Linked DNA regions of Homo sapiens: all the other regions are linked to region 3. Evidence: fine-mapped expression QTL. A gene starts in region 3. Each other region holds a variant in brackets. All regions are shown on one strand. Distances are from middle to middle.

Region 1 (5,146 bases), 57 kb before region 3:
TGACCTTTCTGCCAGAGCTCCCAGCCAGGCCTACTCTGCTGAGGTGGCGCTTCCTGCTAAGGGCCCTTCTCTGCCCTTTCTGCCCTCCTTCCCATCCCACATGCTGAGCCGCCACAAAGACCAAAGAAGTGATGGCTTTTCTCTGTCCCCTGCTGCTCTGAGGGGAGAGGGGTGGGTCTCCTGAGCCACTCAGATGGGAAAGTCCCTTACTCGGCCCCTCCCTCCCCAGCAGCCCCAAGCTTTACACTGGATGCAGCGATCAACCCACCACTCACCAGGCCTCTCCTCCCCTCTGCCCCCGGCTCTTAGCTCCAGCTGCTCCAGGTAGTTGGTTCATCCTTCCCCCTCTCTCCCTCCCTGCTTCCCCTTCAGTGCTTACTTGGCTCCAGCCCTCCAGCTGCAGCCCCTGGGGAAAAGCAGCCTCCCTTCTCCTCTCCCTCCACTCCCTCGCTCCCTCCCTCAGCCCCTGTCTCTGCCAGGTGCCTCCTCTCAGTCAGGCTTCAGAGCAGCCCTGGAGACAGGAGGGCCATGTTAAAAGCTTTTTCACAGTTTTAAGAAGACAAGTGGAGGGTGAGGATAGTGGTGGGGGGTCTGGCACCATCTCATTGCTTTAATCCCAGCAACACAGGTGGCAGCTTCTCCCCCTTCCTTCCCACCCCAGTCCCTCTTCCCACCCCTCTCTTCTAGCTTGGTAATGAAGTATATTTATTGGTGAAGGAAACAGCTGCTGCTGCTTCTCCTGCTGCTGGGACCTGCTCCCCTGTCTCTTCTCCGTGACCTTTCTCTAGCCAGGGAGAAGGGAGAGCAGGAGTATTGGGGCTGGGCCCTGGGGCCCAAGGACCAGCTGGGTCCCCTTTGCTTTCTTGTGTTCCAGCCACCTGCCATTTCCTCCCTGCCTCCCACCCTCCCTCCCTGCCCCCTGTCCTGCTTCCCACCCCCTGCCTGCCCAGCCTGGGCCCTGCAGTGTGGAGAGACACATAAGCCTTACTGTCCTCTGGGGGCAGGAGCCGAGCCTTTTTGTTGCTCCGCTCCCAGGAGAGTGAGGGTGACGCAATTGATTAAAACCATTTTGTTCTAGGTGTGGCTGGTGGCATTTGTGGGGTGCAGATGGGTCTTGGAACCAAAGTGAGGGCACCTGGTCCCTCACCTCTGTAGCTCTATGACTTAGTAACCACACCTCTACTGGACAGAATGAGGCCTGCCTTGAAGGGTCACCGTGAGCAGCGGCCACCCAGCCCAGCAGGGCTGAGTGCAGAGCCCAGCTCTCATGGCTGTGATTTGTAATCATCAGCTTTCACTCTCTGGCTGTTTTCTCATCAGTAAAATAAGGGACTTGGAATCTTAGTGGTTTTTCAAACCATTTTACATTGTGACCCAATATACACATGATTACTTGTAGATATGTGTGTGTGTATATATATATAAAAAAAATGAACAAAAGTTTTACACAATAATATTTACCCTTGCTACATGCAGTGTACTCTGCTTACCCTTCTGTTTTATTAGGGAAAAAAATATGGCTATAACCCACTAAATTGATTTCACATATGCAAGTTTTTGAAGTGCCCTGGATTAGATAATCTCTTAGACTATAGGTTCCTGAACTTTCTTAGCTCACAGCACCATTACCATCTCAGTAATTTTTTCATGGAGCCTCTAAGCCAAAAGAAATAACAGTTCAATTTATTAAGTAGTTAAGTCCAAATCACTTAAAAAGTATTTATGTCCTAACAAGTTAGTTGCCATTTAAAAAATAATACACCTGAATTGGAAGAAACAATATTTATTTCATTCTTTTTTTTTTTTTTTTTTTTTGAGACGGAGTCTTGCTCTGTTGCCCAGGCTGGAGTGCAGTGGCATGATCTCAGCTCACTGCAACCACCGCCTCCCGGGTTCAAGTGATTCTCCTACCTCAGCCTCCCAAGTAGCTGGGATTACAGGCATGTGCCACCATGCCCAGCTATTTTTTTTTTTTTGCATTTTTATTTATTTTTTATTTTTTATTTTTTTTTTGAGACAGTTTCGTTTTTGTCGCCCAGGCTGGAGTGCAATTGTGCAATTGCGGCTCACTGCAACCTCCGCCTCCTGGGTTCAAGCGATTCTCCTGCCTCAGCCTCCCAAGTAGCTGGGATTACAGGTGCCCGCCACCACACCCAGCTAATTTTTTGTATTTTTAGCAGAGATGGGGTTTCACCACCTTGGCCAGGCTGGTCTCAAACTCCTGACCTCAGGTGATCTGCCCGCCTCAACCTCCCAAAGTGCTGGGATTACAGGTGTGAGCCACCGCGCCCAGCCTTCATTCTTAAACAACTGCAATTACTAATGGGATCTATGCTGCCCATTGGGCACTGAACAACTTGTTAAATTTTCTAATCAAAGCAAACACTGCTGCCTTCATTTCCTGTCCCACATTGATTTTCATTTGCTTTTTATCACAGCAACCACTAAAGACCCAGCTTCTTTTTTTTTTTTTTTTTTTTTTTTGAGGCGGAGTCTTGCTCTGTTGCCCAGGCTGGAGTGCAGTGGTGCGATTTCGGCTCACCGCAAGCTCCACCTTCTGAGTTCATGCCATTCTCCTGCCTCAGCCTCCTGAGTAGCTGGGACTACAGGCAGCTGCCACCAGACCTGGCTTATTTTTTATGTTTTTAGTAGAGATGGGGTTTCACCACGTTAGCCAAGATGGTCTC[G/A]CTCTCCTGACCTTGTGGTCCACCCGCCTCGGCCTCCCAAAGTGCTGGGATTACAGGCATGAGCCACTGCGCCCGGCCAAGACCCAGCTTCTTAAAGATGACATCATCAAAAGGATTGTGGCATAATGTAATAATGGAACTGTGAACTACCTTGAGCTAATAGTTCTCTCATTAGCCAAAGATGTTGAATATCTTTCAAAATATCCTACTTTGCCCCCTGTGAATTTGCTGTGGGTGCCCTCAGGCACCTTGATGCACAGTTGGGGAACTATGGTTTAGTCTGTGGGAATAGCAGTTCCACTACTGAAACTACTGAGAGGTCCTGCCGGAAACACAATAGGTGGTATTATAAAACAGATACTGTGGGCTGGTATCATTCCTCTGTGTACCCAAATTAACGTCTGCAGAAGCTTCTTGAAGGCATTTCCAGACCAGACAAAGGAAGGACAATGTTCCAGACCAGGGAGTAGTGCAGAGTCTCAGGTTCCTTCATGAACCCTGAGTGACTCCATCTGGCTGGATTGTAGAGGGTAGACTGGAGGAGCAGTCAAACTGAAGGACTTCCTATGGCTGGTGAGAGACCACAGACTCAATCCTGTAGGCAAGGGAGGCATTGGAAGACTTCACGAGGGTCTCCATTTCATTTGGAGTTGGTACTCCATTTTTTAAAAAATTAATAGCCTTTACTTTCTAGAGCAGTTTTAGGCTTACAGAAAATTGAGCAGATAGTATAATGAGTTTCATATAACCCTCTTTCCCCAGCTCAATTTTCCCAATTATTAACATCTTGCATTAGTGTGTTGTTGTAATTAATGAACCAATATTGATACATTATGATAACTGAAGTCCATAGTTTACATTACGGTTCACTCTTTGTGTTGCAAAGTTCTATGGGTTTTGACAAATGCATGTCTCGTATCCACCATTACATTGTCATACAGAATAGTTTCACTGTTCTAAAAGCACCTTGTCCTCCACGTATTCAGCCCTCATTAGCATCCCCCCAAAAAAGTACTTAGGAATAAATCTAACAACATATGTACAAGGTTTGTATGAGCAAAACTACAAAACTGATAAAAGAAACCAAGGAAGATCAAGTAAATGGAGAGATGGTCCATGTTCACGGATAGGAAAACTCAATATTAGGATGTCAGTTCTTTCCAACTTGATCTATAGCTTCAATGTGATCCTGGTCATAGTCCCAGCAAGTTATTTTGTGAGTATCACCAACTGATCCTAAAGTTTACATGAAAATGTAGCAGACCCAGAATAGTTCCACTGTTCCACCTCCTTCTGCCTCTCCTGGTGCCGTTTGTGTGCTCATTCATTCTGTGCAGACCTGGTGCCTCATTGGTGAAGTAGCAGCTGAGGAGACTCCAGCACTCGTGTGGCTGATGAAAAGCCCAAGGAAGGAGTCAAGACTGAGAATAACAATCTTATTAATTTGAAGGTAATGGGGCAGGATTGTTCCATGGTGCAGTTTAAAATTAAAAGTCATATACCGGCCGGGTATGGTGGCTCACACCTGTAATCCCAGCACTTTGGGAGGCCAAGGTGGGTGGATCACCTGAGGTCTGGAGTTTGAGACCAGCCTGACCAATATGGTGAAACCCCGTCTCTACTAAAAATACAAAAAAATAGCTGGACATGGTGGTATGTGCCTGTAGTCTCAGCTACTTGGGAAGCTGAGGCAGGAGAATTGCTTGAACCCGGGAGGCGGAGGTTGCAGTGAGCCGAGATCGCGCCACTGCCCTCCAGCCTGGGTGACAGAACGAGATGCCATCTCATAAAAGAAAAAAAAAGAGTCATATACCACTTAGTAGAGTAATGAAAGTCTATTGTGAATGACAGAGTTTGTCAGTGAGGCAGATCAGATTCTAATTTGACAGGCAACCAGTCAATGAAACAGACACACCTGCACAGTTGGAAATGGAGGATGAAGATACAATTGATGTGTTTCAGCAACAGACAAGAAGTGTCTACTGAAAAAGGAACCTGCTTCTTTACTCTAGAACTTTGTTCTTATAGACCAAGATTACATTCTCAATTAGAAAACTGCAATTTGGTTCCACCACATCATGACTATTACTATAGTATAGTTTTCTCTATTCTTTTATTTTTCCCTTACCCATTCCCTTATTGTACATAAAATAATGGGTGTATGTTCACAAGCATTTTGCTGTTTTAAATATTAAATGGCCAATGACATCCACTTGATGTCAATCAAAACATATCTGTGGGGAAAAATACCGATTCTTGAAAATTACCTCCCTTTCTCCATCAGTGGCATGCTCATTCAACTCTTATCTTACATTGCAATGTTATTTTGTTCTCACTATTTTAACAAAAAAAAAAAATCCTTGCATACCTTATTCAATTGGAGAATTTTAATGTTTTTCATTTATCATTGTAAAACCAAGGACAATTTTATAACTTTTCGTGTATATAGCTCTTACATG
Region 2 (5,146 bases), 82 kb before region 3:
CTCTCTTCCTGTCTCTTCATTTGCTCCCCCAGGGTCACTCAGGATGTGTCAACTGTCTGGAGTGGAATGAGAAAGGAGAGTAAGTATGAGCTAGAGCACCTGAAGGGTGCTGGGGAAGGAAGTAAGGAGGGTGGAACAGCAAGGCTCCTCCTGAGAGGATCCAAGGAAAAGATTGGACCCAAATGAAAAGAGACTGCTGCTGTCTGCCGTTCTTCAGCTTAGCCCATAATTTTCAACACAATTAAACAATCTCAGATAGATGGAAAGTTGGATGACCATCCAAACCCTGTTTTGTTTTGTTTTGTTTTGTTTTAGAGACAGAGTCTCATTCTGTCACCCAGGCTGGAGTGCAATGGCGTGATCTTGGCTCACTGCAACCTCCGCCTTTCAGGTTCAAGCGGTTCTCCTTAATCAGCCTCCCAAGTAACTGGGACTACAGGCATGCGCCACCATGCCTGGCTAATTTTTTGTATTTTTAGTAGAGACGAGGTTTTGCCATGTTGCCCAGGCTGGTCTCAAACTCCTGAGCTCAGGCAATCCACCTGCCTCAGCCTCCCAAAGTGCTAGGATTACAGGCATGAACTACCGCGCCCGGCCCAAAACCCTGTTTTTTTAATAAGCCAATGTGTTTAAGAATGATAGAAATTTCTTGGCCGGGCGTAGTGGCTCACGCCTGTAATCCTAGCACTTTGGGAGGCCGAGGCGGGTGGATCACGAGGTCAGGAGATTGAGACCATCCTGCCTAACACAGTGAAACCCCGTCTCTACAAAAAAACAAAAAATTAGCCGGGTGTGGTGGCGGGCGCCTGTAGTCCCAGCTACTCAGGAGGCTGAGGCAGGAGAATGGCGTGAACCTGGGAGGCGGAGCTTGCAGTGAGCCGAGATCGCGCCACTGCACTTCCAGCCTGGGGGACAGAGCGAGACTCCATTTCAAAAAAAAAAAAAAGAATAATGGAAATTTCTCAGGACAAAATAGAAGAGAATCAGCTGTTTACAAGGCAACCTTAAATTCTGTGACATTTACTGTTCTTCAAATTCTGTAACCTAACTCCTTGTAAACTGAGAACATGGGATGGGGAAAGGGAGCCTAGGAATTTGAGGAGAGATCACAATCCCTCACTCTGCTTTCAGCTTGCTGGCCTCTGGTTCCGATGACCAGCACACGATTGTGTGGGACCCGCTGCACCACAAGAAGCTGCTCTCCATGCACACGGGACACACCGCAAATATCTTCTCTGTCAAGGTGAGCAGGACAAGCCACAGAGCAAGCACAAGCCACAGATCAAGCACAAGAGTGACTGGGCTGTGGCCACGCCATGTTGGTATGTGTGTGTCCCATATACCGTCTAGGGTCACAGACAACCTTATGATCTAAGTATCTGTTGGTGATTCCTGAAACCTCATTTCTCTTCCATGTTCTTCTTCCTCTTTTAGAGCTAAGCGGCCAATTCTAGATGAATTTATCTTTATGTGAATGGTAGTGGTGGGGGTATGGTTCTGAACGTGAACTTAGAGAGCAGGCATACCTGGGTTTGACTCCCTTATCTGCTTCTTGGGCATTGTGTGACCTGGGCAAATCACCTGACCTGTCTGAGCCTGTTTGCTCATCTGTAAAAAAGGAAGCAGCGAAGGAAAATCTCCCAGATTTGTAAACAAATTAATTTTTTTAAAAGGAAATAACAGTCTACAAGGTTGATGTGACAGTTCAATGAGATAATTGATAAAAATAAAGTCTGTGCCCAGTGCTTTTTATCTGTTCTACCCCTTCATAGGAAATGAATATTTTGATTTGTTGGAGGAGGGGAGTTGAGCGGAGGAGAGGTGAGAAGGGGACTTACAAGTGTCTTCAGACCTTTGAAGCTCTGTTGAAGCCCTGGAAATGACATGAGACATGTTTTTTTGTTGTGGAAAACAGACCTAGGACTAGTGGCTGTAAGTCCACAGAATTAAATGTGGGCCTGAGGAAAGAAAGAACTGTCTAATGCTTAGAGCTCTTTGAAAAATGTAGAATGGGCCCCTGGAGGAGATGAGTAAATGTCCTATCCCTGCACTTGTCCACTCGCCAGGTGCTTTATCTCCAAGATTTAAAGTTGGAAGAAATGGCCTGCAAGGAAGGGCCTTTCCAGCTCTGAGATTCTATAATGGATAGATGTGAGAATGAAGTTGTCCTTCGGAAACCCTCACTATTCTAAGAAATATTTTCGTAATTAATATCAAGAGGAATTACAAGATACCTGAACAAGATGATAGCTCCAAACCTACTTGTTTTCCTAAACCCTTTTTTCTTCTCAAGCTATGATTCTCGCCTTTAGAGACAGAACAATGATGATTTACCTCTTATATGACTAACGGAAACTGCTTTCTTCCCCTGCAAAGAGTTTAGGTCCAATTTTAGTCTGCACAGTCAGGCCTGGGGAAGGGGACCTAAGCCATTAGTTTAGCATCAGAGCACAAGACATTGATTTCTAACACCAGAATTTCATAATGGTCTTGATACTCCCTAACGGTAAGACCTTGGGAACGGCACTTACATGCAGACTGTCAGCCTCCTCTTCTATT[T/A]AAAAAAAAAAAAACAACCTGAAAAGGATTCTTCTTTCTTTAGGTAGTGGAAACACTGCAGATGTATATGTATTTAACTCATGCGCTCCCCCTGGTGGTGACTATGGTGTGTGATGCGTGTGGCAGCAGCCACAAGATCATGACAAGGGCTCCCCAGTTTATTTCTGCTGTGCATTGAGTGTATGCCGTCTCTAGACAGGATTAAAGACTACTGGTTGTCCCTAAAATAATTAAATCATGTCTATTTCATCTAGACCTTGGTCTTTTTTTTTTTTTTTTTTTTTTGAGGGTGAGTCTTACTCTGAATGTCGCCCAGGCTGGAGTGCAGTTGGCACAATCTTGGCTCACTGCAACCTCCGCCTCTGGGTTCAAGCGATTCTTGTGCCTCAGCCTCCTAAGTAGCTGGGATTACAGGTGTGCACCACCACACCTGGCAGATTTTTGTATTTTTAGTAGAGATAGGGTTTCACCATGTTGGCCAGGCCAGTTTCGAACTCCTGACCTCAGGTTATCCACCCACCTAAGCCTCCCAAAGTGTTGGGATTACAGGCATGAGCCACAGTGCCTGGCTAGACCTTGTTCTAATGGCCCTTAGAGAAGCCTATGTGGAAAGAGTGAATTGTTGTTCTTTGTGAACATTTAAAGTCAAGTGGGACATCAGCTGTTTCAGTGTAGGACATTGCCCCTCCCCCAACACTACCACTCAGCCTTGTTGTGGGTAGGGAGGAACTTTTCAATTTTAAAAAAAAGATATTTCAATTTTTTGAACTCACACGAGAATTCAACACCACTCCCAAATATTTTTTATCCTCAAAGTTATGTGATAGAACTACATACTTTCTTTCTTGTTTCTTTTCTTTTTTTTTTTTTGAGACAGAGTCTCGCTCTTGTTGCCCAGGCTGGAGTACAGTGGCAAGATCTCGGCTCACCGCTGCCTCAGCCTCCCGAGTAGCTGGGACTACAGGCATACACCACCACACCCGGCTAATTTTTTGTATTTTTAGTAGAGACAGGGTTTCTCCATGTTGGTAAGGCTGATCTTGAATTCCCGACCTCAGGTGATCCACCTGCCTCCGCCTCCCAAAGTGCTGGGATTACAGGTGCGAGCCACAGCGCCCAGCCCAGAACTGCATACTTTCTTTTTTCATTATTTGAAGCTATGGTTGCAGCTGTTTTTTTCTTATCAGATGTCATCTGGAGTATTTTGTTCTTGCCTTTATCAGGATGGTGGTTTTTTTTTTTTTTTTTTTTTTTGAGATGGAGTCTTGTTTGCTCTGTCACCCATGCTGGAGTGCAGTGATGCCATCTCAGCTCACTGCAACCTCCACCTCCCGGCTTCAAGTGATTCTCCTGCTTCAACCTTCCGAGCAGCTGGGATTACAGGTGCACACCACCACATCCGGCTAATTTTTTTTGTAGTAAAGACGGGGTTTCACCATGTTGGCCAGGGTGGTCTCAAACTCCTGACCTCAGGTAATCCGCCTACCTCGGCCCCCCAAAGTGTTGGGATTACAGGTGTGAGCCACGGCACCTGGCCGGTTTTTTTTGTTTTTTTTTTTAATAAATACTGCATAGAGATGTATCCTCTTGATGCTCAGCCCTTCCCTATTGTCCAACATTTGAGCTGTTTCCAATATTTGCTATTATAAGAGGCATCCAAGCATTTCTGACCAGGTCCCTTTTTTCTTTTTGGATTATTTCCTTTTTTTTTTTTTTTTTTTTGAGATGGAGTCTCGCTCTGTTGCCCAGGCTGGAGTGCAGTGGCGTGATCTCAGCTCACTGCAAGCTCTGCCTCCTGGGTTCACACCATCCTCCTGCCTCAGCCTCCCGAGTAGCTGGGACTACAGGCGCACGCCCGGCTAATTTTTTTATATTTTTAGTAGAGACGGGGTTTCACCGTGTTAGCCAGGATGGTCTGGATCTCCTGACCTTGTGATCTGCCCGCCTCAGCCTCCCAAAGTGCTGGGATTATAGGCATGAGCCACCACGCCTGGCCTGGATTATTTCTTGGAAGTGGAAGTTTTGAGTCAAAAACTAGAAATTGTTTTTAATCTTTGTTACTATTACCAGATTGTTTTTCAGAAGCAGTCAAACTAATTTAAAACACTCACTCCCAACAGGGCATTCTGGCTCATGCCTACAATCCCAGCACTTTGGGAGGCCAAGGCAGGTGGATCACCTGAGGTCAGGAGTTCGAGACCAGCCTGGCCAACATGGTGAAACCCTGTCTCTACTAAAAATACAAAAATTAGCTGGGCGTGGTGGTGCACACCTGTAATCCCAGCTACTCAGGAGGCTGACACAGGAGAATCGCTTGAACCCGGGAGGTGGAAGTTGCAGTGAGCCGAGATTGCACCACTGCACTCCAGCCTGGGTGACAGAGCGAGACGCTGTCTCAAAAAAAAAAAACAAAAAAAACCCACACACACCCATTCCCTTAAACACTCAAAGTCTTTTTCACTTCAGGACTAATTTATTACTTAATCTCTAGGTTACTAAGTAGTCATAATGAGGCAAGTAGGGCATGTGGGAGTCAGACAGACTTGGGCTTGAACACAATCTTGCTGTATATTACTGCTGAACCTCA
Region 3 (5,146 bases):
CCTGGTGGGAGGGAGGCAGGAATCAGTGAGGTCAGAGGTCAGCACAGGGCTAGACAAGGGGAGTGAGAGCATCAAAGGTCAGCATCAGTGGGAATTGGAATCGCAGGAAAGGGGCACCCGTCATGAGAGGAGGCAACAGGAAACAGAGGAATACTTGGGATGTCAGTGGGGGGTTAGGTGACTGAGGAGGCCAGGGGGATTAGTGGAGGTCAGAGGTCATAGCGGAAGTCAAAGGGCACTTTTGAGTGAGAGGTGGATTCTGCTCACCGAGTTCTTCTGGAAAACATCCTCCTGCAGGAGGCAGACAGTCAGATACTGGTGTTCTGTGTAGGCCTTACCCCAGCCCTGTGCCTGCCTCCACCAGCCCCAGGCCACCTACCCGCAGGGCCTGCAGGTCAGGGAGGTCGGCCTGGGAGCAGAGGAGCACATTGTTGGTCATGCTGAAGCTCTCACGCACACCAAGGTGGTAGAACAGGGAGGGCTGTACCAGCGAGCTGCTCACCTCCAGCACCACCACATCTGCAGGCACAGAGGGGGTGGCGCTGATCCCTGAAGCCCAGCTTGATGGGGAAGGAGCCGGGGTCCATCCTGGCTTGACCTGCCTTGCTGTGGGACTCCAGTAGGGTCTGGTTCTGCTTTGGGCTTCAGTCGGCCCTTTTTAGGGTTCCCCTGGCACTTTCACAGAACTGATCTCTGTAGTGTTGCAGGAGAGGAGTTGGGCTCACTGGGTTGGGACCCTCAGGCCACGGTTCAGAGCCTGTGAGCACCTGGCATGGGGGAAGGGAGGCTGTGGACCAGTTGAGTCTGTTACGGGCCATTTAGGAGGTGGGAGTTGCGCAAACATAGAAGTCCCCTCCCTTTGGTCTTCAGCACAGGCTCTTGAAAGGGGCTACCATCAGTGTGCATAGACAACGCTGTGCCTAAATGTATGTATGTGTATATCTGTGACATGTATAGCTTACTATGTCTGACTGTATCTGTGTGTGTGACAGCGTCTGCTAGGGCCTGCATGAGTCAACATGTATGCGATTTGTGTCTGTCGATAATTGTATCTTTGTGTCCGAGTGGTCGGGTCAGCCTTCATTTTAGGCTACGATTTCATGGACATCCAGGAAGCACAGCTACTGGACTCTAGCATAAGCAAGTAAGTATGGGGGCCGAGCATCCGGGCTGGCTGGAGGGAGGAGTGACTCGCGGGGGAATAGCCTCCTTCTGGCCCCGCCCCTGAGCCATCCTTTCCCGCCCACTTCCCCGCCCCTTCCCCGCCCATTCTTTCTGGGCCGCTGAGGCCACTTAACCTAAGCTCCCTCACCCAGTATCCAGTCCCGTCGGGCCCCTTCGCTTCTCTTTTTGCCTCTCCTAGCCCGATCCTTGGAAATAGTATGCTAGGACTCCTGAACTCCAGCCTCCCGGCCCCTTTCCCTAAGTCCAAGCTCCTCTCCCAGTAATTGTCCTCAAGAGATCCGCGTGACATTCTCCTGAGGGTGAGGCTGAGTTCTCCAACCCCACCCCTGAGACACCACAGCCCCGCGCCGCTCCCCGCCCCGCCCCAGAGTTCCAAAGCCCCTCCCCATCCTTGCCCCGCTGGCTGGGCACCGCTCCGACTGAAGGGTGCCTAAGCCCCAACCTCGAGCCCTAGAGCCGCGCCCGGATCCCTGTCTCGTCCCGAGCCCGGCCGCGCCCCAGATCCCCTAAATCCCACTTTTTTCACGGCCCTGTCCCAAGCCCTTCAGCTTTAGCTCACTTTAAGTCCCCTAGACCCGGTACCCCTCTCGGCCCCTCCCTTGAGCCTTCGAGCCCGGCTTGGTCCCCTCCCAGGACCCTGAGTCCCGCCCGGATCCGGCCCCGCCCCCAGCGCTCTCACCCGCGTTGTAGAAGGCATCCAGAGCCGCGGTGTCGCCTAGCTCCAGCGTCCCGAAGGGCAGGCTGCGCAGCTGCGGGGGCGGCCGCGGCCGGGGGACCTGCGCGCAAGCCTCGCGCAGGCAGCGCAGGGGCAGCGGCTCCGCCTCGGTTCCCTCCCGAGGCTCGAGCCCGGGCTGCGGCTCCCGGGTCAGCACGTAGACCACGCTGAGCGGCCGGCTCCGCGCGCAGCCCCGGCCCGGGGGCGCCGCGAGCTGCCGGCCCCGGCTCAGCGCCACGGCCAGCGGGTCCTGCCAGCAGCTGCCGGCGCGCTCCGCCCCGGACCGGGGACACGGCCCCGCCATGCGGGGGCGCTCAGGCGCGGGGCGCCGCGCACTGGGAACCGGGGGCGGGGCAGGAGCCTGGGCCGGCAGATCAGGAATCTTGGGATCTGGAATCCGTTCGGAATCGGAGAATCTCCCACGGGATCTAGGGATCCGGAATACGGCCTGACGTCCCGTTCCAGGAATCTAAAGTCCAGGGAGAAATCCTAGCTCGGACTTGCAAGGTCCTGAGGTTCTGAAATCCGGGATTGGGTCCCAGGAATCTGGGGCATCCGGTGATCGGCAGCTCAGAGCCACTTGGGGGATCCTGGGAATCGGCTCGGAGGTGCCCGCCACCTGGACTTCTCAAGGGAGCGCCCGCCAACGCTGCCCTGCCTTCACTTGTAGGCTAAGCCCAGCCCTTTCCCGGCCGACCCAGAAAGCTCCACCCTCGGCCCTGGGGCAGAGCCGCTCCCTAGCGGCTTGAGACTCAGCCTCTCCCCTCCCTTCTCTCCCGCCAGAACTTTGGAGACTGGCGGCTTCCGGAACAGCCTGTGCCCCTGTGCACGCCAAAGACTGTGGACTGCTCACAGCAAGTGCACATAAAATGTGTGAGGAGGCCAGGGCTAGGGAAAAGGTTCGATATGCAGGCCCTGCTCTGCAGGTATCTGTTGAATGAATGGCTCTCTAGAGACATCAGGGTGCGCAGAGCATGATGAACAATGGGTGTCCTCCCGGGCCCAGTGAGCGCAGGCAGGGAGGGACTGGGATGGGGGAAACCTACACCCTAGGCCGCTTGCCCGAAAGCCTTCAGTCCTGGAGTGGGACTTGGCATCTGAGCCTTAACTGTCACTAGGGGGCTGCTTTCCCCAGGACCCAACCTGCTGTGGACCCCCGCTGACCTTTGACTTCTAGGCAGAACGTGGCCATGGGACCTGAGAAGCACTTCCTACTCTAAACAACTCTAAACATTTCTTTAGCCACCCCTTGAAGGAGTCAACCCCAGCCCTTTGCACTACAGCAGCTTCTCAGCTTCAAATCCCCAAGAGTCCCCAACTTTCTTGTGTGAATTAATGAGTGAGGCAGCAACCTGGTAGAAGCCTCAGTGGACCCTGAAACCAAGAACTGGGGACTTAAGTTGAATAACTTGTCCAGGATCACTCAGCACATGACAGCAGGGTGCAAACCCAGGACCGCCTGTCAGACTCTTAACTATTTAATTCTGCCACTTACTAGAATGTGGCTTTGGGCAAATAAACTGCTTAAATGCTACTCAATGGCTGTTTCATTGCCCTGTTGCCTTGTGGAAGAAAAAGGTACCTTCCTTGGTTTGACCTTGGATTCGAACTGACACCCAATGAGATAGGCAGGAAGTGGTAGAGTTTGAGAACTTGGCCTGCAACAGAGGCTGGAGTGGAAAACAGACAACTTACAAAGGACAGGCATGGGCAACCGACAGGCTGAGAAAGCTGTGCAATTCCCAGCCAGGGCGGTGGCTCATGCCTGTAATCCCACTTTGGGAGGCCAAGATGAGTGGATCACGAGGTCAGGAGTTCGAGACCAGCCTGGCCAACATGGTGAAACCCCGTCTCTACTAAAAATACAAAAAAAAGTAGCTGGGTGTGGTGGCACCTGCCTGTGATCCCAGCTACTTGGGAGCTGAGGCAGGAGAATCACTTGAACCTGGGAGATGGAGGTTGCGGTGAGTGGAGATCGTGCCATTGCACTCCAGCCTGGGCGGGGCGACAGAGCAAGACTCCATCTCAAAAAAAAAAAAAGCTATGCAATTGTGCAATTCCTGCCACAAAGCCATCCACTTGCAGGACCCAGAGGGCCTCGGGAAATTGTCAATGGATGCTTGGATCTCCTCTAATCCTTCCACTGTATGCCCCTCTGGCTCATTGCACTCCAGCCTGGGCAGGGCGACAGAGCAAGACTCCATCTCAAAAAAAAAAAAAAAAAAAAAGCGGCCGGGCGCAGTGGCTCACACCTGTAATCCCAGCACTTTGGGAGGCCGAGGAGGGCAGATCATGAGGTCAGGAGATTGAGACCATCCTGGCTAACATGATGAAACCCCGTCTCTACTAAAAATACAAAAAATTCGCCGGGCGTGGTAACGGGTGCCTGTAGTTCCAGCTACTCGGGAGGCTGAGGCAGGAGAATGGCGTGAACCTGGGAGGCAGAGCTTGCAGTGAGCCAGGATGGTGCCACTGCACTCCAGCCTGGGCGACAGAGCGAGACTGCGTCTCAAAAACAAACAAACAAACAAACAAACAAAAAAGCTGTGCAATTGTGCAATTCCTGCCACAAAGCCATCCACTTGCAGGACCCAGAGAGCCTCAGGAAATTGTCAATGGATGCTTGAATCTCCTCCAGTCCTTCCACTATATGCCCCTCTGGCCTTGTCTTGCACACCTCCAGAGACAGAAGCCTCACTACTTTAGAGGCTGTCCTTTCCATCTTCCTGACTGGAAGGAAATTCTTCCCTGAATGGAGCTGAAACTTGTGTCCCTGCTCTGCCCTCTAGGGTTTTTTCCCAGTAACTGGAAGAGTCTTGAAAGGGCTAAAATGATTTTATTTTTAAATGTGGACAGGCAAGCAGAGGTGGTTGGCAAAGGCAAGGTGGCTGACGATCCGGAAGCTGTACAGGAGAGATAAGGGCACTGGCTGCCAGAGTGCCCTATCGAAGCATCATCCGAACCCTGCGGTAGGGGTGGCCCACACCACGGCCTGAGGCCCAGTCAATGCCATATTTGTGGGCGGCAGCCTCAGACACTGCATAGCGACCATTGAGATTTGATCGGTAACAGGATGCATACCACCAGGCACCGTGGACAATCACTGCACAGTTGCTGTTGCTTGAATCGTGGTCAGCGTCATAGGTGGTAAAGGGCCTCCCACTGTGGAGGCTCAGGGAATCCCCTAGCAGGGAAGGGATGGAAAGCACCTTGGTGCCCAGCACCACGCCTGGCACCTTTGGAGAT
Region 4 (5,146 bases), 130 kb before region 3:
TTTCACCATCTTGGCCAGGCTGGTCTTGAACTCCTGACCTCGTGATCCACCGACCTCGGCCTCCCAGAGTGCTGGGATTACAGGTGTGAGCCACCGCACCTGGCCTCTCCTTTTATTTTTATTTTTTTGAGATGGGGTCTCACTCTGTTGCCTGGGCTGGTCTCAAACTCCTGAGCTCAAGGGATTCTCGTACCTCTGCCTTCCTAGTAGCTGGGACTACAGACACGGCCTCCGTGACCACTCTCTTCTCTCTTTTTAAAAATTAAGGAATGTTGCTGACATGTGCAGTTCTGAGTCTCAGAGAGGAAGTCAAACAGAACATGTAATCTGGTGATACTTGTGTTTTCTTTGGGTCACTGGTTTAGTTATCTATTCTGTTTCCTTTCTTCTTTCCACCTCACCTTTCCAGATGCTCCACTGTATCTTTAGGCTGCCATTGCAGATTGCTGGGCCCACAAAACCCTTAGGTTGTACTTTCTTAGCTGTCATCTCTTGAAAAGCCAAAGTTCTGGCAGTTGCTATTAGAAACCAGTTCCTGGCTGAGCGCGGTGGCTCACGCCTGTAATCCCAGCACTTTGGGAGGCTGAGGTGGGCAGATCACGAGGTCAGGAGATTGAGACCATCCTGGCTAACACGGTGAAACCCCATCTCTACTAAAAATACAAAAAAAATTAGCCGGGCATGGTGGCACGCGCCTGTAGTCCCAGCTACTCAGGAGGGATTTTCCTACTAAGGCAGGAAAATCGCTTGAACCCAGGAGGTGGAGGTTGCGGTGAGCTGTGATCGTGCCATTGCACTCCAGCCTGGGCAACAAAAGTGAAACTCCATCTCAAAAAAAAAAAAAAGAAAAGAAAAGAAAAAAAAGAAAGAAGCCAGTTCCTTGGTGTAGTTAATTTACTTTGAGAGGTATTTGCCAGTTGGGATATGTCCTAAAAAGTGACTGACATTTTATTCAGGGCCTGGTATATCTTGAGCTCAGTGCTAGCTAGTATTTTTACTTTATCCAGTGTAACCTTCATGACTGTCCTGTGAGGTGAGAATCATTTTCCCTATTATACCTATGAAGAAACAGATTCAGAGAAATTAAGTTATTTGCTTAAGGTCACACAGCAAGTAAGAGGAAGGACTGGAATTCAAACCCAGGTCTCTCTGCTCTGTGATATTGAATTGCCTCTGGGACTGTGACACATGAAGAAGAACTGAAAAGACCAAGGCTAAGAGCCTGGGGGAACATGATACCTCATTCAAATACTTGAAGATTGTCATGGGGAAAGGAAACTGGATGTTCTCTGTGATTCTAGAAGGCATCTCAGGATTAAATGACATAATTTCCAAGAAGGTAGACTTTGGTTTGATAGGAGATAATGTAGCTTTCTAAAAACAAAATGGGCTGCCTTGTGAGGGAGTGAGTTACCCATCATTGCAGATATTCAAGCAGAGAGTTTGCCACATCTTTTTTTTTTCTTTGAGACAGAGTCTTACTTCGTCATCCAGGCTGGAGTGCAGTGGCATGATCTCAGCTCACTGCAACCTCTGCCTCCCAGGTTCAAGTGATTCCCATGCCTCACTTCATCTTCCAGGCTGGAGTGCAGTGGCATGATCTCGGCTCACTGCAACCTCTGCCTCCCAGGTTCAAGTGATTCTCATGCCTCAGCCTCCCAAGTAGCTGGAATTATAGGCATGTACCACCACGCCCATCTAATTTTTGTATTTTTGTAGAGATGGGGTTTCACCATGTTGACCAGACTGGTCTTGAACTCCTGACCTCAGGTGATCCGCCCGCCTCAGCCTCCCAAAGTGCTGGGATTACAGGTGTGAGACACCGCGCCCAGCCCCGGCTAATTTTTTTGTATTTTTATTAGAGACAGGGTTTTGCCATGTTGCCCAGGCTGGTCTTGAACTCCTGAGTTCCACCTGCCTCGGTCTCCCAAAGTGCTAGGATTACAGGCATGAGCCACCGCTCCTGGCTTTTTTTTTTTTTTTTTTTTTATGAGACAGGGTAGATGGGAAGACAGGTGTGTGCCATCACGCCTGGCTAATTTTTTAATTTTTTCATAGAGATGGGGTTTCACTATGTTGCTCAGGCTGGTCTCAAACTCCTGGGCTCAAGCAGTCTGCCTACCTCAGCCTCCCAAAGTCCTGGGAATACAGGTGTGAGCCACCATGCCCAGCCTCCCTGTCTGTTTGATCTGTAAAACCTAACATGGCTTGGCACGGTGGCTCACACCTGTAATCCCAGCACTTTGGGAGGCCTAGGTGGGTGGATTGCTTGAGCCCAGGAGTTTGAGACCAGCCTGAGCAACATAGTGAAACCCAGTCTCTACAAAAAGAAAATTTAAAAATTAGCCAGGTGTGGTAGCATGTGCCTGTATTCCCATCTACCCAGGAATCTGAGGCGGGGGCATCACTTGAGTGCAGGAGGCAGAGGTTGCAGTGAGCCAAGACTGCGCTACTGAACTCCAGCATGGGCAACAGAGACCCTGTCT[C/CA]AAAAAAAAAAAAAAAAAAAAAAAGCCAGTTGTGCAGTGGCTCATGCCTGTAATCCTAGCACTTTGGGAAGCTGATGTGGGCAGAGCTCAGGAGTTGGAGGCCAGCCTGGGCAACATGGCAAACCTGTCTCTACTAAAAATACAAAAAATTAGCCAGCCGTGGTGGTGCACACCTGTAATCCCAGCTACTTGGGAGGCTGAGTCATGAGAATTGCTTGAACCTGGGACGCAGAGGTTGCAGTGAGCCAAGATCGTGTGCACTCCAGCCTGGGGGACAGAGTGAGACTCTGTCTCAAAAAAAAAAAAAAAACCAAAAAAACCCAAAAAAACTAACATGTATTGAATATTTAGTATATACCAGGCACTTGCTAGATACTTTTTCTTTCTTTTTTTAAGACAGAGTTTTGCTCTTATTGCCCAGGCTGGAGTGCACACGATCTCTGCTCACTGCAACCTCCGCCTCCTAGGTTCAAGCAATTCTCCTGCCTCAGCCTTCTGAGTAGCTGAGATTATAGGTGCGCGCCACCATGCCTGGATAATTTTTGTATTTTTTTAGTAGAGATGGGGTTTCACCATGTTGGCCAAGCTGGTCTCGAATTCCTGACCTCAGGTGATCCACTCACCTTGGCCCCCCAAAGTGCTGGGATTACAGGCATGAGCCACCAGGCCCAGCTCTACTTTTTCTATAATGTCTCTTATAATCTTCAGAGCTCCCCTGGAAGGAAGGTATTACCATTATCCCCACTTTACAAATGAGAAACTGAGACTCTAGACTAAAGTTAAGGAATATGCTGGAGGTTACACAACTAGTAGTGTAGGGCTGATATTTGAACCCATGTCTCCTCCTTAGCTCTGTGACCTAGGGCCAATCATGTATCCTCTCAGAGCTATAGTTTCACCTATAAAATGAGGCTTATTGTAGTACCTACTTTTTAGTGGGTTTTTGAGGACTAAATGATGAAATATATCCTTTTTACTAGACCTCACTGATTGCCCTCAAGAGCCAGGGCTTGGATGTAAAGGAATACCACTTAGTTGGCTTCTTCTGGGTAAATTCAGGCCTATGTGTAACTCTGAGAGTTCTAGGGCCCATTCTTTGAGCTATTAAGTAATAGCTGCTGACTCCTTGAAGGGCTTTGTGGCATTGAAGACTAATACCTTAAAAACTTTTAAGCCTGGGCTGGGCGCAGTGGCTCATGCCTGTAATCCCAGAACTTTGGGAGGCTGAGGTGGGCGGATCACAAGGTCAGGAGTTTGAGACCAGCCTGGCCAAGGTGGTGAAACCCTGTCTCTACTAAAAATACAAAAATTAGCCTGGCGTGGTGGCGGGTGTCTGTAGTCCCAGCTACTCAGGAGGCTGCGGCAGGAGAATCGCATGAACTCAGAAGGTGGAGGTTGCAGTGAGTTGAGATCGCAACACTGTACTCCAGCCTGGGTGACAGTGAGACTCCATCTCAAAAAAAAAAAACAAAAAAACTTTAAGCCTGAATAAGGGGAGGATGCAGTCAAAAGGCCAGAGTGTATAGGAGGCAGTGTCAGAGGCCCTGTGCAAAGAAAATTCTCAGCTACTACTGCAGAGCCAGATTTGAGGGTCACCGTTGGCATTTTTGTATTTATTATCTTCTTTTAGGATACAAGGTCACAACTGCTAGAGCTGTAACAGAGCTCAGTGCCAAGAATAATGACCCTTAATCCTCCGTATAGCCATCTGGGGAGGTATTAACCCCATTTTCTTGGAGATGGGGTGGAGAACAGGATCAGACCTTGCCCAGGGAGCTCTCCAGAGGCTGTTGAGGGCAGTGTTTGGATCAGGACTTTTGTACAATTTTGTCCTTATTCATGACCCCCCAAATTCTATAAAACTGCTTATCCTTGAACCTCTTAGGGGGCCTTCCTGAGAATGGGAGCTAGGCATTCATGGTCAGGGAGCTTCATAGTTGAGGCCTGAGTGTTTGGGTGCTGATGGCCTACCTGGTTCCCTTTTGAGTTACACATCTGGATATAACACTACTGTCACTGAGTTAGAAAGGAAACATTTCTAACTTGAATGGTTTAGTTTTCCTTGACCTTGCAGCTAGTAGTAGAGTTACAGGATGAAACTCCAGAGCCTTCTCTACAAGAGATATTTTGAATTGTGGCAGGATTTGTCAGGATGCAAGTTAAAGACTGCAGATGCTTTTAAATAGTGAGAGAGTATAGCATTATCAAAATATGCTCCCTTTTCTCTGTTTCCTTCCACTATCTTAAGGTAATTGTGAGGCCTAAGAGCAGACAGGAAAATTAGCTATGATCACTGGAAAACAAAGTTCTGAAAACATCCAGAAAAAATTTTCACAAAGCTCAAACAAGTGGCTGGGTGTGATGTCTCACACTGTTTTTTTTTGTTTTTTTTTTTTTGAGAGTCTCGCTGTGTCACCCAAGATGGAGTGCAGTGGTGCAATCTTGGCTCACTGCAGCCTCAGGCTCCTGGGTTCAAGCGATTCTCTTGCCTCAGCCTCCTGAGTAGCTAGGATTACAGGCGTGTGCCATCACGCCTGGCTAATTTTTGTATTTTTAGTAGAGACGGGGTTTTACCATGTTGGCCAGGCTGGTCTCCAACTCCTGACCTCCAGTGATCCTCCTGCCTTGGCCTCCCAAAGTGTTGGGATTACGGGGATGAG

Which allele goes with the higher level. Positions count from the first base shown, and alleles are read on the strand shown. Sizes are in standard deviations (SD) of each study's normalised expression. Not every link is listed here.
In carriers of allele CA in region 4, the expression in fibroblasts of the gene that starts at base 2,568 in region 3 tends to be lower than with C alone (large effect, 0.85 SD a copy in GENCORD).

Evidence for each region. PIP is the estimated chance that this variant, and not a neighbour inherited with it, causes the effect. A credible set is the group of variants that fine-mapping cannot tell apart.
Region 1: its variant is the best candidate, but not a certain one, in a credible set for the expression of MAP3K6 in whole blood (TOPMed, PIP 0.65).
Region 2: its variant is the best candidate, but not a certain one, in a credible set for the expression of MAP3K6 in whole blood (INTERVAL, PIP 0.79).
Region 4: its variant is the best candidate, but not a certain one, in a credible set for the expression of MAP3K6 in fibroblasts (GENCORD, PIP 0.67).

What each region holds. Positions count from the first base shown.
Region 1 is chr1:27,307,166-27,312,311 of GRCh38, forward strand. It overlaps WDTC1 (WD and tetratricopeptide repeats 1), which reads left to right. Exons shown (of 16, transcript NM_001276252.2): 16 at 1-1,471. Among named protein-coding and RNA genes, the nearest start is that of TMEM222, 12 kb to the right of the region's middle. RefSeq lists enhancers at 91-616, 617-1,142, 1,143-1,667. The variant G/A (reference allele first, on the strand shown) is at 2,688.
Region 2 is chr1:27,282,207-27,287,352 of GRCh38, forward strand. WDTC1 (WD and tetratricopeptide repeats 1) reads left to right here. Exons shown (of 16, transcript NM_001276252.2): 4 at 33-79; 5 at 1,132-1,243. Among named protein-coding and RNA genes, the nearest start is that of TMEM222, 37 kb to the right of the region's middle. RefSeq lists a silencer at 2,579-2,658 and an enhancer at 4,718-5,146. The variant T/A (reference allele first, on the strand shown) is at 2,560.
Region 3 is chr1:27,364,394-27,369,539 of GRCh38, forward strand. It overlaps MAP3K6 (mitogen-activated protein kinase kinase kinase 6), which reads right to left and starts at 2,568. Exons shown (of 29, transcript NM_004672.5): 1 at 1,865-2,568; 2 at 380-519; 3 at 268-291; 4 at 1. The coding sequence starts at 2,204. FCN3 (ficolin 3) reads right to left here. Exons shown (of 8, transcript NM_003665.4): 8 at 4,717-5,084. The coding sequence ends at 4,843. RefSeq lists silencers at 1,157-1,226, 1,817-1,866, 1,937-2,156, 2,187-2,296 and enhancers at 1,549-2,492, 2,493-3,434.
Region 4 is chr1:27,237,031-27,242,176 of GRCh38, forward strand. The region is part of intron 1 of WDTC1 (WD and tetratricopeptide repeats 1); the gene reads left to right. Among named protein-coding and RNA genes, the nearest start is that of WDTC1, 5.0 kb to the left of the region's middle. The variant C/CA (reference allele first, on the strand shown) is at 2,487.